2 linked regions of the Homo sapiens genome follow. The main gene of each other region encodes a partner of the protein of the gene in region 2 in a complex. Each region holds a gene or a part of one and is shown on either strand. Other genes may lie near its edges. A codon is read from its position in the direction of its gene.

What was found.
Region 1: the proteins of RAB11FIP3 (region 2) and RAB11A are in contact, whole or in part, in a crystal structure (PDB 2HV8), measured with the Homo sapiens proteins. Residues at the interface, in NP_055515.1 of Homo sapiens: Asn731, Phe732, Gln735, Ile738, Asp739, Arg740, Ile742, Val743, Met746, Glu747, Pro750, Ser751, Leu753, Glu754, Val755, Lys756; in NP_004654.1 of Homo sapiens: Arg33 (codon at 2,369), Ile44 (codon at 2,336), Gly45 (codon at 2,333), Val46 (codon at 2,330), Glu47 (codon at 2,327), Phe48 (codon at 2,324), Ala49 (codon at 2,321), Thr50 (codon at 2,318), Trp65 (codon at 2,273), Arg72 (codon at 2,252), Arg74 (codon at 2,246), Ala75 (codon at 2,243), Ile76 (codon at 2,240), Ala79 (codon at 2,231), Tyr80 (codon at 1,994), Arg82 (codon at 1,988).

The regions. Positions count from the first base shown.
Region 1 is NC_000015.10:65,872,491-65,879,756, reverse strand, and holds part of RAB11A (ras-related protein Rab-11A), read right to left. Parts: intron 2,426-7,266; coding exon 2,230-2,425; intron 1,996-2,229; coding exon 1,802-1,995; intron 87-1,801; coding exon 6-86; intron 1-5. UniProt on the Homo sapiens protein: The small GTPases Rab are key regulators of intracellular membrane trafficking, from the formation of transport vesicles to their fusion with membranes.
Region 2 is NC_000016.10:420,734-428,781, reverse strand, and holds the start of RAB11FIP3 (rab11 family-interacting protein 3), read right to left. Parts: upstream 3,134-8,048; 5' UTR 2,776-3,133; coding exon 2,062-2,775; intron 1-2,061. UniProt on the Homo sapiens protein: Downstream effector molecule for Rab11 GTPase which is involved in endocytic trafficking, cytokinesis and intracellular ciliogenesis by participating in membrane delivery. Recruited by Rab11 to endosomes where it links Rab11 to dynein motor complex.

The sequences.
Region 1 (7,266 bases), on a different chromosome or scaffold from region 2:
CTTACCTGTTAAAATTGTCTGAAAAGCAGCTTCTACATTTGTAGAGTCTAGGGCCGAAGTTTCAATGAATGACAAACCATTCTTTTCTGAGGGGAGACACAAAAGTTCAGTCTTGTTAAGTTTTAAAACAAGGAATAGGATATACTCAAGCCCTCAAAAGGAAAAATAACAGAACTTTTTAAAACTTAAGACCTCCTCAACTTCTGGGACAGTAAGGGCACCATTCTGTTTACACTTTATTTATTTACTTACTTTATTTACTTCTTTATATAAGTAGAGATGCAGGTCTCACTAGGTTGCCCAGCCTGGTCTTGAACTCCTGGCCTCAAGAGTTTCTCCTGCCTCCATCTCCCAAAATGCTGAGATTACAGGCATGAGCCACCATGCCCGACCCTACTTACACTTTAATATTTACACTTTAATAGATTAAAAATAATAGCAAGAGAGCTGGGCATGGTGGCTCACTCCTGTAATCCCAGGACTTTGGCAGGCCAAGGCAGGCGGATTGCTTGAGCCCAGGAGTTCAAGACCAGCCTGGGCAACATGGCAAAACACTGGAGAGAGGTTTTGCTCTCTCTATATAAAGAATACTAAAAATTAGCTGAGCGTGGTGACACACACCAGCAGTCTCAGCTACTTAGGAGGCTGAGGTGGAAGATCACTAGAGCCCAGGAGGTCGAGGCTGCAGTGAGCCTTGACTGTGCCACTCCACTCCAGAATGGGTCACAGAGTGAGATCCTGGCTCCCAAAAAAAAAAAAAAAAAAAGTGAGAAATTGTCAATTGGCTCCTTAATTAAAATAAATACTTGTTATATCTAAGTACTACTCACTAGTGACGAATGACACCACTTAAAATGTGGTAAAAATGTATCAAGTGCCCAGTTATTTCCATCTCTTGCTATCCTCTCCATCAACTACATTGGCTATAGTATTCCGTATGTTGTAGCCATATTATTTACAATAAAGCTATTCTTGCATGGGAAATTTAAAAAACTGTTACAGAAAGTTATTCATAGCATAAGCATTAGTGCAAAGGCAAGACTTTCTCTCTTTTTTTGTTTGTTTTGTTTTGTTTTTTTGGGACGGAGTCTCGCTCTTTCGCCCAGGCCGGACTGCAGTGGCGCTATCTCGGCTCACTGCAAGCTCTGCTCCCGGGTTCACGCCATTCTCCTGCCTCAGCCTCCCGAGTAGCTGGGACTACAGGCGCCCGCCACCGCGCCCGGTTTTTTGTATTTTTAGTAGAGACGGGGTTTCACCATGTTAGCCAAGATGGTCTCAATCTCCTGACCTCATGATCCACTCACCTCAGCCTCCCAAAGTGCTGGGATTACAGGCATGAGCCACCACGCCCGGCCGCAAGACTTTCACTAGCCACAATGCACAATGTTGTCTTCTGGCATGCTGTCCCTACCAGAACAGGGGCAAGAGACACGTGAATTCTTTATGAAGCCAAAAAGTTACAGCTCCTAAGCAGCTGCATCCCTGTTGGTCCCTGACACTCCCTGAGCCTCTGCCTTTCACTCACATAGAGCTCACGTACAGCAGCCTTTGTAAACACAGAAACATAACAGAAAAAGAGACAGAATATACAATGTTTATATTCATTTTTTGGCAGCAAAATATTAGTGTTTTAATGACTCAAAGCAAAAAAGCTATACAGTCATCACAAACTTTCAAAACAATTCTTGCTAAGCATTCATGTTTACCTCTCTGAAACTATTATAACCTATTACTCTCATTGGAAGGTATCAAAACCACAAGACACAATGGTAAGAAATATCATGGAATTCCTATCACTAACCTGCAAAAGCTCTTGCTTCATCTGTAGGAACTGCCCTGAGATGACGTAGATCACTCTTATTGCCCACAAGCATGATAACAATGTTACTATCAGCATGATCTCTCAGTTCTTTCAGCCATCGCTCTACATTTTCATATGTGAGATGTTTAGCAATGTCATAAACCAATAAGGCACCTACAGCTCCACGATAATATCTGAAAACAGAAACATATTTAGTATCAGAAAACCACAAGATGGAAGCAAACACCAGGAAGAACTCAAAATATGGATCATGAGTTTTAAAAACATACTTATAAATAAATTTCTAAGGATTCCTAATACTAGAATTCTTAAAAGAAAAAAACAACAGTTCTTTTTCCAATACCAAAAGTCAGCTAATTCACTCGATGGCAACCCATTTCACAGAACTTAAAAACCATGAGACTTACGCTGATGTTATAGCTCGATATCGCTCTTGCCCTGCTGTGTCCCATATCTGTGCCTTTATTGTTTTTCCATCAACCTGGATGCTTCTTGTTGCAAACTCTACTCCAATGGTGCTCTTGCTTTCCAGATTAAACTCATTTCGAGTAAATCGAGACAGGAGATTACTCTTTCCAACACCAGAATCTCCAATAAGGACAACTGGAAAGACAAAGAATTCAATGTCAGATGAATGAGGCAAACATATTCAGAACACCACTATGCTTTCAACAGAATGAAGTTTGGCTTCAGAGTAAATAAAGCAAGAAAAATAAGGTATATGACTTTTAAAAAGGAATGGGGGTAGGGGGTTGAACAGCATGTTCTTGACCAGTTACCAATCAATAAAACCGATTTATTCTTTTCAACCTGTTTCTACCTGCATGACTTCCACATATCATCTGCTTAGCACAGATACGGTACCCTGTCTTAAACATGCAGTTTTAATCACAGATGCCCTTGGCATTGATGACAGGCATTAATTACCGTCAATGCTATGCCAATCTTACTACTTTAGAAGATAACAACTTCAAAGATAAATCCTAAACTAAATGAATAATTTATGATATTAAAATGTAATGTATCAGAAATGAAAACAACAAAGGCTGTTAGTGGGTAGGGAAGGACAAAATGAATATACTTCGTTTCATCAAAGACTGGGTGTGACCTCAGGACTGAGACCTAGGCAAAATGAAAAACATTTAACATATGAGGCATAGGGTTTATAAACATCACCATACAGATCACAGAAACTAAAATGACCTTTAATAGTTGCATTTATCAGATTGGTTCAAAGTTAGAGACCCCTCTGCCAAAAAAACCCAAGCCACTACAGATAAACAGGGGGTATTAGGAAACTAATAATTCTGACATACTGTGAGTCAAAACCAAAGCAAGTGCCGGGTGTGGTGGCTCACACCTGTAATCCCAGCATTTTGGAAGGCCAAGGTGGGCGGATTGCTTGACGCCAAGAGTTCGAGACTAGCCTGGCCAACATGGTGAAAACCCCATCTCTATAAAAATACAAAAATTAGCCAGGTGTGGTGGTGGGCGCATGTAATCCCAACTACTTGTGGGCCTGAGGCATGAGAATAGCTTGAACCCGGGAAGCAGAGGTTGCAGTGGGCCGAGATTGTGTCACTGCACTCCAGCCTGGGCGACACACTGAGACTCTGTCTTAAAAAAATAAATAAAATAAAATACAACAAAGCAAGGAGGGCATATACTTTCACTTATGACTCCATGATTTTTTTGAAAATAGGTCTTGATTAGATGAATTTGCTTCCTGTGATTTCTATAGGCAGCAGTTTATTTACTAACTAGATACATGGAGATTCTTTTTCACTCAAAGTGGTATTACGCTTAAGAATTTCAAAAACAATGGAGAAACAGGCAGTTAAGTTGTTTTAAAACATTTTCTATCTGAATTTAAAGTTCAAAATGAGTTCACACGTTTATAGAATCTGAGCTAGATATTTTTTCCTTTGTAAAAATTGGTATCAGCATTTCAGGAAACATTACATTCGTTCCTACTTTTGACTACTAAGACTTCTTCTTATCTAAACTAGCTAATTGATTTAGACATCAGGACTAGAAAATCAAACATACAAAAATAAGGCCAAGGAGTAAGACCATTCCTTACTAAAGAGACTGGGATGGTGGTACGAGTGGAAAGAATGGTAAAAACTGAGAGCTCACTGCATTCTGGTCAGAGGGCAAAGAGAGTCCATTATACATTCCCTCCTTGCCACAGGAGTGGATATAAGCTAGCCTCTGGACAGTCTTGGACAGAGTACATTATCAAATGCATATCTTTCTGGCTTTCTCAGTCAGCTGATTCAGCAAGAAATCATTCAGGAGGCAGTGAATCCAATGCAGCACAAAGAATGGTTATTTCTAACTAGAGAGTCAACTAGAGGGTGTCAAAGATGCTGTGGCAAACACATACATGCTTTTATTTGATATCAGAAGAAAATGTCAAAGTTATTAAAGTGATGTACAAAAGCAATGCACTTTCAATTTTATAGGATGGTTAGTTGATATACTAGTTTCCAAGGTCCACCATTCTGGATATGAAGTCAAATCTCAGTTTCAGTTAATAGTCTATTATTAATAGGATACATTCACTGTTGCCTCTTAGTACAAAAGGCTGGATGTTTGCTAAGGAAATGGCCTTTGAATCACTTATACAAAAAAAAAAATTTAAATACAAAAAAATACACAAAAAATACATGAATAAATACAAACAAAAAAATTAGACAGGCACGGTGGTGCATGCCTGTAGTCCCAACTACTCAGGAGGCTGAGGTGGGCAAATGGCTTGAGCCTGGGAGGCAGAGGTTGTGGTGAGCCTGGACTGTGCACCACTGTACTCTAGCCGGGGGAGTAGAGCCAGAACTTGTCTCAAAAAAAAAACTTCCAGCACTTTCTTTCTTTCTTTCTTTTTTTGAGACAGGGTCTCACTGTCGCCCAGGCTGGAGTGCCACGGCACAAGCAGAGCCCACTGCAGCCTAGACCTCCCAGGCTCAGAGGATCCTCCCACCTCAGCCTCCCTAGTAGCTGGAACTACAGGCACATGCCAACACGCTCAGCTAATTTTTTGTATTTTCTGTAGAGATGGGGTTTTGCCATGTTGCCCAGGCTGGGTCTCAAACTCCAGGGCTCAAAAGATCCACTCGCTTTGGCCTCCCAAAGTACTGGGATTACAGGTATGAGCCACCATGCCCGGCCAACTCCAGCACTTTCAAGTTTTGGTTTCCTCCCTTTTGACCTCCACTTTTAACTAATGATTATGTTCATTATCTCACCAATCTCAACTCCTTATACCATCATAAAGATAGCAAGGGAACTTTTCTCTTAATGTAACCAATTAATGTTAACACTACAAAAAAAAAGCACTCTAATCTGAAAATAACTCAAAATTCATGAATGTTTTAAAAAGTTATCTCAACTAGGCCGGGCGTGGTGGCTCACACCTGTAATCCCAGCACTTTGGAAGGCCAAGGAGGGTGGATCACCTGAGGTCGGGAGTTTGAGACCAGCCTGACCAACATGGAGAAACCTCATCTCTACTAAAAACACAAAATTAGCCAGGTGTGGTGGCGCATGCCCGTAGTCCCAGCTACTCAGGAGGCCGAAGCAGGAGAATTGCTTGAAGCGGGAGGCGGAGGTTGCAGTAAGCTGAAATCGCAGTAAGCTGAAATCGCGCCATTGCACTCCAGCCTGGGCAACAAGAGTGAAACTCCATCTCAAAAAAAAAAAAAAAAGTTATCAACTAGACATCTGCTGTATTTGAGTATCATCGCAAATACCTAATACTGAATATCAAGCTGCTAAATGCATAAAAGCAGAATATACATATTAATTATCCATTGAAAATTTCTGCCTCTTCAACCACATTTAGTTTTATACTTTCTCTTGCAAACTAATTTACTGGACTAAAATATAATTCATCAAAGACAGTACCTCAACCCTAAAAGTTACCACGTGAGAGAATAACTGGTAATTTTCATTCTAGTTTTCATAAATTTGGAGACATTTCTATTCTTTCAACTATATTCATAGTCCAACCTCCTCAAAAGTTTTTAATATACAATGCGTTCAAGGCAGGACACAGTGGCTCATGCCTGTAATCTCAGCACTCTGAGAGGCCAAGGTGGGAGGATCCCTTGAGCCCAGGAGTTTGAGACCAGCCTGGGCAACGTAGGGAGACCCTATCTCTACAAAAAAGAAAATTTTATTTCTGTAAGTGGGATAGTCTTAAAAAAAAAAAAATAGCCAGGCATGGTGGAGCACATTTGTAGTTGCAGCTACTTGGGAGGCTGAGGCAGGAGGATTTCTTGAGCACAGGAATTTGAGGCTGCAGTGGGCTATGACTGTGCCATGGCACTCCAGACTGGGCAACAGAGGGAGACCCTGCCTCAAAAAATATATATATATAGATATAGATATAGATATAATGCATACAATAAGGCTCAAGTCTAGACAAGTTTTTCCAGATTCAGCAGAATCTGAGTTGCTCAACCAAAACTTGTGAAAGAAAAACTACTACCAAGATGCAAGACAGCAAAGTTCCTATGATAATTTCTACTGACAATCAGCTGATGGTTAATTACTACTGACCTCCAATGTGATTGAAAAGAAAATGTCTTAAGCAATAGACTATGTATCCAGATATTTTCAGAAAATCTAACTGTGGATTGGTGTCTACCACACAATATTTGTAAACAGAAATCATGATTGATGCTTACTTATGTCCCACAGGGCCTTAACCACATTGTTCGTAAATACTTAAGGAATTAAAGTTTTAAAAATAAAAAGTCAACTTTAAATAAAATAAAACTAATTCCCTCCCACCAAAAGTCTCACTATTGGGCTTAAATAAAGGTTACTGTTCAAGAACAAACACATAATTTAGAATAATTGTCCTGCTCGCCCCACATTACATTCCTATTTAGACCACTCCATCCCCTATTAATCAAAATATCCCTTTATTTTGAACTGGTTAGTTACAAACTAACTCCAATTCCCTCAACTATTGCATTTGCTAGGTAAACCTTCTAAGTAGAAACAGCTGCAGTCCATCTCAGTGAATAAATCTCTGTACAATAAAGCCATTTTGAAATAAAATCATTCTTGCTTCACTTTAAAGTAGGATACTTGTATAAATAAGAAATTGGCTAAATAATCAGCATTGAAGTTAAAAAAGAAAAAGAAAAAGTGACTCATATCCTGTAAGAGCTTTAAAAAAGTAGAAATCTGGCCAGGCACGGTGGCTCACACCAGTAATCCCAGCACTTTGGGAGGCCCAGGCGGGCGGATCACCTGAGGTCAGGAGTTCGAGACCAGCCTGACCAACATGGAGAAACCCCGTCTCTACTAGAAATACAAAATTAGCCGGGTGTGGTGGTCCATGCCTGTAATCCCAGCTACTCGGGAGACTGAGGCAGGAAAATCGCTTGAACCCAGGAAGCAGAGGTTGCAATGAGCCGAGATCGCGTCAT
Region 2 (8,048 bases):
AAAGATGTTTCTCAAATAAAAAGAATTGTATGAAAGTCAGTAAGATATTATCACAATAGGGATATTGTGAGCCACCACATCTAAGAAGAGGCATCTAAGGTCTAAGGGCCAAAAGACCTAGTTCTACTCCTGTGAGACCTTGGGAGAGCTATCTGACCTTTCTGGGTTTCCAGTTTCTTACCTGTAAAGTGGGGATGAATCCTGCTTACCTACTATCTCAGAGAACTGTGGTATGATCCAGTGGAAACATCCTGAGCCTCACAGAAGTTCTCTATCAAGAGTTGGGTTATGGTAACAAGGAGCAAATGTGGTACTCTCCTAACTTCTTTGCTGTACTGAAGCAAGAGTATGTTTGGGAGAAGAGACAGCGCAGTAGCCAACAGCAACCAAGGGAGCTCAAGGTGCTCTCCAGCCCAGGGGCAAGAAGGAAACGCAGCAAAACACCTGGACCAGCAACCACCATCCACGCTGACCATACAGGAAAGTATCAGTCACATATTTCACTGCCCATTAGTGTAGGTGGAAAACTACCCTGACAATATCCCAACCGGAGCTAAGCTTGCGAGCATTGCAGGCTGCCCCGCACGCACCTGTCTGCACATCTTCTTAATGTGAACTCAGCAAGGAACCCTGATTTATCAGGACCCTGTGTTTTTTGTTTTGTTGCTGTTTTTTTTTTTTGAGACGAAGTCTCGCTCTGTCGCCCAGGCTGGAGTGCAGTGGCGCGATCTCCGCTCACTGCAAGCTCCGCCTCCCGGGTTCACGCCATTCTCCTGCCTCAGCCTCCCGAGTAGCTAGGAGTACAGGTGCCCGCCACCACGCCCGACTAATTTTTTTGTATTTTTTAGTGGAGACGGGGTTTCACCATATTAGCCAGGATGGTCTCAATCTCCTGACCTCGTGATCCGCCCGCCTCGGCCTCCTAAAGTGCTGGGATTACAGGCATGAGCCACCGCGCCCGACCATCAAGGTTCTTAATGTTATGACTGACACCCTAAATAGCAGTGTGCCAATTTTACCTCTTTTCTTACAGACCTCTTGGCTTAAACATGCATATGTACTTGAACACCCACTTACCAGATGTCTGCATGTGTGAGAAGTCAAAATACAAAAAATTGACAGATGCACCTTAGGGATTTCCTGCTAAGTAAAATATTTAAAAGTGAGCACTGGTATTATTTGATGTCCACCGGGTTATTGGCAGAACACACACGGCCCTGCTGTTATCTCCACTTAAACTTTATTAAGTGCTGAGGTAGACAGGAACAACTGCATCTTGGGGCCCACCTTTCCCCCAGGAGCAGGTGCCCTGAGGACCGCGTGGACCCCTTCCACACTGTACTGTGCGTAGTGCCTGTCCACGCATTTCACCTCTCCTACGAGAGTGGACGTGGCCCTAACGGAGTTCTGCTAGACTTCTGCATTTGCCAACAAGCTCCGAGGCTCATTGCCTTCCTCCCCAAAGGCACCAAAGTAAAAATTCTTAATTCCAGGACTCTCTACAAGCATTGACTGTCTCCCAAATAAAAGATGAAATCTAAGTAGAAAAGATGTCAACCACACACAGTAAAGTAATTGTACTCAAAATAGGTGTCTATCAGTAGGATCTCAAGGCGTCTGGGCAGCCTGGCCTCTGCGGCTAGAACTTGGGTGAATTCAGCCGAGCAGTATCTGGGCCCTCGGGTGGGGGAATCGCGGGGAACTTCTTCATTCAGGGGCACGTCGATCAGGCACCCTGGGGGGGTGGCGATCAGGCCCCCTGGGGGGGTGTCCCCAGGCGAGGAGCTGACCTCGGTAAGATCCAGCTGACGAGGCGCTGGGGGGAGGGGAAGAAACTGACTCCCCAGAATAGAACCTCCTTTTAAGAAGGGAAGAGGGACTCCAGCGCAATTCAACCAGAAATCCAGGGCCGAAGTGGTGAATAAGCAGAAAAAGCAGGACCGTCAGGTCTTGACAGTGCCTTTCCCGACTCCAGGGGCAGCGTCGACCGGTCCCACATCAACCCCGCCGGCCAGCGCGCACCTGCCCAGTTCCCACGCCCCGGCCCGGGCCGCTCCGTACCTGCTCTGCCCCGTAGACCGTAGCAAACTGGATGAAGTCCTCGATGCGGACGAAACCGTCCCCATCCCCGTCCAGGGCATCGAACACGGCTCGGAGGCGGGGGCCGTCCTCCTGACTCCCCACGGGCTCGCTCGGAAGGGGGTGGGTCTGGCTGAGGTCCGAGGGCTGCGGCGGGGACCCGGGACCTTGCTCCAGCGCCAGCTCGCCCGCCGTGGGCGCGGGGAAGGGAGAGAAGACGTCGACCTCGCCCCGCGCTCGGTGGCTGCTGCTGGACCCCTGCAAGCGGAAAGGCGCGCTCTCCGGGCAGCTCGCGGGGCCACACTCCTCGGGCTCCTCAGTCCAGGAGAACAACGGGTCGAGTTCTGGAAGCGGCGCTTCGGAGCGCGGCCCTGGGCCCGGGGCGTCGGGGCTCGCAAGCTGCCCCCGCGGGCCGGAGCGCGGCGGCGGGGCGGACGGCCCGGGGTCTCGCGGGCCTCCCTCCAGCCCCGGGGCCGGCCCGGCGCTCCAACGCGCCCCGCCATCTGCAGCGGCCCCGGGCGCAGGCTCATCCAGGCCCGGGGACTGCGGGTCGGGGCCGCCGACGGGCGCTCCGAGGCGTAGCTCCGCAGGGCCCGGAGCCAGTTGTGCCGCCCCCGGCCCGTCCGGCCCGCCCGGCTCCGGGTCGGGCCCCGGCGGCTCCGAGCCCGGGGGCGAGGCCGGCGGGGCCGACGCCATGCTCCCGAGAGGCTAGTGGTGCGGAAGGGCGCGGGCGGCAGACAAAGGCGCTCAGGGCGCGGCGGCGGGCGCGGGCATCCCCTCGGCGGCGCGGGCGGGCGCGCGCGGGGCGCCCGGGCTGCTGGGGCTGGCGCTCGGGCCCTGCTCTGTCCTCGCCCATCTTCGCACCGCGCCTCAGCTGCCCTCGGCCCGGCGGCGCGGCGGGCGCAGGCCCATGGCGGCGGGGCGGCCTAGGGAGGGCGGCGAGGATCCGGGCGGCGGATGGCGGGGGACGGGGGCCGAGGAGGCCGGGGGACGGGGGCCGAGGAGGCCGGAGGCCGCGGAGCCTGTGAAGCAGGATGAGGAGACTAAGGAGGCTGAGGCGCCTGAGGTACCCGGAGAACTAACGCCGCCGCCGCCCAGGCCCCGCCCCCCGTCGGGCCTGACGTCAGCACGTCCCGGCGGGGTCCCAGCCCCTCGCCGGCTTGCTGTAGAGGCAGGCGCCGGGTGTGTCGCGGCAGTGCAGCGGCCGCGAAGGGGTGTTTTGCTGTATGTCATATTCCTCGTTTCGCCAGAGCGGGGGTCCCGAGCTTCGGGCGCGGGACGCGGGGGTGCTCCGAGGCTGCGAGTGGAGGCGTGACGTGACGTCCCTGGCAAGAGGCGCGCGGAGTCAGGCCTTACTTAGAACGTGTTCCCGCCGCACAGCTACCAGCGGGCGCGACCGCTACCCACGCATGGTGCGGTCGAGTAAACGGCACCGCCTGGCGAGCGAGAGACGCAAAGGGACATAGCCCCCTAGGAGCTGAGCTCTTCGGGGGTAAAGCGTTCTCACGTTGATGAGACCAGGAGGCGGCGCACGCCTGGCTCCGCGGCCCAGGGGTTGCAGGTGCCCCAGGGTTCGCGGGGCGCAGACGCCGCAGAGGGCGACGCCCTGCCCGGGTCCCGCGCGGACCCGGGGGACGCAGGGTCTGACACGGAGTGCGGAGGGGCCCCAGACACGCAGTCCATGTCCCTTGAAACCAGAGGCACGCGCGGCCACGCGCTAGGCCTTTCCCTTAAGCCTGTGACCAAGATCTCCGGGACTCCCAGCGTTGGGACGGGCGCGCTGGCCCACGCCCAAGCGGGAGGATCGCTTGCGCCCAGGAGATTGAGACCAGCCTGAGCACCAAAGCGAGACCTCGTCTCTACAAAAAATAAGACTCAAGAAGACACCCAGGGTGAATCGCCCGTCTGCAGCCAGCCTCCCGAGCACCGTGGCCGCGTCTGACAACTGACCTCTGTGTCTGGGTGTCCCTGTCCTCAGAGGGACACGGGACCTCAGAAAGGACCACAGCCCGGCGGCAGGCATGATGGTGGGAAAGCTAGTTAGGACAGGTGAGGCACTAAATTTAGCCTGTCATAATTTGTATCAGGGAAATGATGAACTTGTATTTTTACACACCATGGGCACCAACACAAGATATGGTTTCGTAAGCAGCTTTGGCAAGAACCAAAGGAACGGAACCTCTGCTTCCAAGTGTACGGTCAGGAGCAGCGTGTTAATTAAGTGAGTCATCTTCCGTGGCAGAATCCCAGGGTACATGGGACCAGACTTCGCGAGGCTGGCATTAGGAAAAGGAATGTGAGGGATCCTCCTCCCCAAACCGTATTCTCATTTTCTTGTAAGAGCTGTACGTGTTCATGAGGAAGATACTGCATTCAAAGAACGAAATCACCAGCAGCTTTGGCAAGAATTCAAATTTGGGCTGATGCCTTCGGCCGGATAAAATTTTCAGAAGCAGTGATAGTGATGTGTCAACCTTTCTAAATAGGGGTGTTAGTGTGGGCGAGGCAGAGACAGCAGGCTCCCTCTGCTTTTATGTGCCGGCGCTGCCAGAGGCAGAAGGCTGGCTTTCTGAGAGCAGGGGCCCGCACGCTCTGTCTGTGCTAGGGCTGGAAAACGTCCATTGCGTGCCCGGCTGGTGTCCTCCATGGAACCACAGCCTGGAAGCCTGCACCTCCCTGCCTGGACCAGTTAGAGGCTGTTCATGAAAGACTAAAGGGACAAGTTCCCGTCTATCCGTCTGCTGTTCAGAGCTACTATCTGTGTCCCCTTTGTAGGCTGTGGGCTGTAGCAGTTCCTTCTTTTCTTTTCTTTTCTTTTTTTTCCCCGAGACAGGGTTTTGCTCTGTTGCCCAGGCTGCAGTGCAGTGGTGCGACCATAGCTCACGGCAGCCTCAACCTCCTAGGCTCAAGAGATCCTCCCACCTTAGGCCAGGTGTGGTAGCTCATGCCTGTAATCCCAGGACTGTGGGAGGCTGAGGCGGGCGGATCACGAGGTCAGAAAATGGAGACCATCCTGGCTAACACGGTGAAACCCCGTCTCTACTAAAAATACAAAAAAACAAAAATTAGCCAGGTGTGGTGGCAGGCACCTGTAGTCCCAGCTATTTGGGAGGCTGAGGCAGGAGAAAGGCGTGAACCCGGGAGGCAGAGCTTGCAGCGAGCCAAGATTGCACCATTGCACTCCAGCCTGGATGATAGAGCAAGACTCCGTCTCCAAAATAAAAAATAAAAATAGAAGAGAGATCCTCCCACCTCAGCCTCTCCAGTAGCTGAGACCACAGATCTGCAGCACCTTATTATCTTTTTTTTTTTTTTGATATGGAGTCTCACTCTGTCGCCCAGGCTGGAGTGCAATGGCGCGATCTCTGGTCACTGCAACCTCCGCCTCCCGGGTTCAAGTGATTCCCCTACCTCAGCCTCCTGAGTAGCTGGGATTACAGGCGTATGCCACCAAGGCCGGCTAATTTTTTGTATTTTTAGTAGAGACCGGGGTTTCACCATGTTGGTCAAGCTGGTCTCAAACTCCTGACCTCAAGTGATCCGCCCACCTCGGCCTCCCAAAGTGCTGGGATTATTGGCATGAGTCACCACACTTGGCCTCAACATGCGTTTTGGAGGGTATAAACATTCAAAGCATAGCCTCCATCTTCTCACTCTGTCCTCACATGTTGGAGAAAGATTGTCTCTTTTGGGCTGGGCGTGGGAGCTCATGCCTGTAATTCCAGCACTTTGGGAGGCCGAGGCGGGTGGATCACGAGGTCAGGAGTTCAAGACCAGCCTGGCCAAGATGGTGAAACCCCGTATCTACTAAAAAATAGAAAATTTAGGCCGGGCGCGGTTGCTCAGCCTATAATCCCAGCACTTTGGGAGGCAAGGTGGGCGGATCACAAGGTCAAGAGATCGAAAACATCCTGGCAAACATGGTGAAACCCTGTCTCTACTAAAAATACAAAAATTAGCCGGGTGTGGTGGCACCCACCTGTAGTCCCAGCTACTCGGGAGCCTGAGGGAGGAGAATCGCTTGAACCTGGGAGGCAGAGGTTGCAGTGAGCGAAGATCGCACCACTGCACTCCAGCCTGGCGACAGAGCGAGACTCCACCTAAAAAATATATGTATATATTAGCCGGCCGTGGTGGCGGGCACCTGTAATCCCAGCTACTCAGGAGGCTGAGGCAAAGAATTGCTTGAACCCGGGAGGTGGAGGTTGCAGTGAGTCAAGATCACACCACTGTACTGCAGCCTGGGTGATGGAGTGAGACTCTGTCTCAAAAAAAAAGAAAAAAAATTATCCGGGGGCGGTGGCGGGTGCGTGTAATCCCAGCTACTCAGGAGGCTGAACAGGGTAATCACTTGAGCCTGGGAGGCAGAGGTTGCAATGAGCTGAGATCCAGCCACTACACTCCAGCCTGGGCAACAGAGCGAGACTATCTCAAAAAAAAAAAAAAGGCGGGCGTAATGGCTCACGCCTGTAATCCCAACACTTTAGGAGGCCAAGGCGGGTGGATAACCTGAGGTCAGGAGTTCGAGACTAGCCTGGCCAACATGGTAAAACCCTGTCTCTACTAAAAATACAAAAACTAGCTGAGCGTGGTGGCGTGTCCTGTAATCCCAGCTACCTGGGAGGCTGAGGCAGGAGAATACTTGAACCCGGGAGGTGGAGGTTGCAGTGAGCCAAGATCCCACCATTGCACTCCAGCCTGGGCAACAAGAGGGAAACTCCATCTCAAGGAAAACAATAAAATAAAAATAAGGCTGGGCACGGTGCCTCACGCCTGTAATCCCAGCACTCTGGGAGACCGATGCGGGTGGATTACCTGAGGTCAGGAGTTCAAGACCAGGCTTGCCATGGTGAAACCCCATCTCTACTAAAAATACAAAAAATTAGCCAGGCATGGTGGTGCATGCCTGTAATCCCAGCTACTTGGGAGGCTGAGGCAGGAGAATCACTAGAACCTGGGAGGCGGAGGTTGCAGTGAATCGAGATTGTGCCATGGCACTCCAGCCTGGGCAGCAAGAGTGAAACTCCGTCTCAAAAAAAGAAAAAAGAAAAAAAAAGACTGTCTCTTCTAATAAGGGCACTGTTCCCATCGTGAGGGCCCCACCTTGCTGACCGTATCTAACCCTAATTATTATTATTATTATTTTTTTTTGAGACGGAGTCTTGCTCTGTCGTCCAGGCTGAAGTGCAATGGCGCCATCTCAGCTCACTGCAATCTCTGCCTCCCGGATTCATGCCATTCTCCTGCCTCAGCCTCCCCAGTAGCTGGGACCACAGGCACCCGCCACCATGCCTGGCTAATTGTTTTGTATTTTTACTAGAGCCGGGGTTTCACCGTGTTAACCAGGATGGTCTCGATCTCCTGAGCTCATGATCCACCCGCCTCGGCATCCCAAAGTGCTGGGATTACAGGCGTGAGCCACCGCGCCCGGCCCTAACCCTAAGTTATACCTCCCAAAGACCTCATCTCCAAATACCATCCCGTTGGCGTTAGGACTCCAATATATAAATTTTGGGGTAGCAACTGGGAAGAGAGAGTTAGAATGGATTTAATGGACAAAATATTCATTTCTAGAATACACAAAAGAATTTCTCAAAAAACAGTAAACGAACAGCAACCCGATAGAAAAACGAGGAAAGAATATGAATAAGCAGCTCCAGAAGAGGAAATTCAGGTGGCCGGTAAACACATGAAAAAGATGCTCATCTTCACTGGTCACCAGGAAAATGTGTGAGTGTAGCCCTTGACACCAATCAGAGTAAGTCTGGGGACACCAGGGAGTGGGGATTTGGCACCAGTCGTGCAGCTGAAGGTCGGAATACTCCAGTGTGGGATCCGCCTTCCAGTACCTGCCGGAGAAACTGCACATGTCCGCAGGGAGATGGAAAGACCTTGTTTCCTTCGGGGATTTGTACTTCTCTGGAAGAAGAGCCGAACGGCTTCAGTGGAGCCTGTTGTCTGTTGTGAAG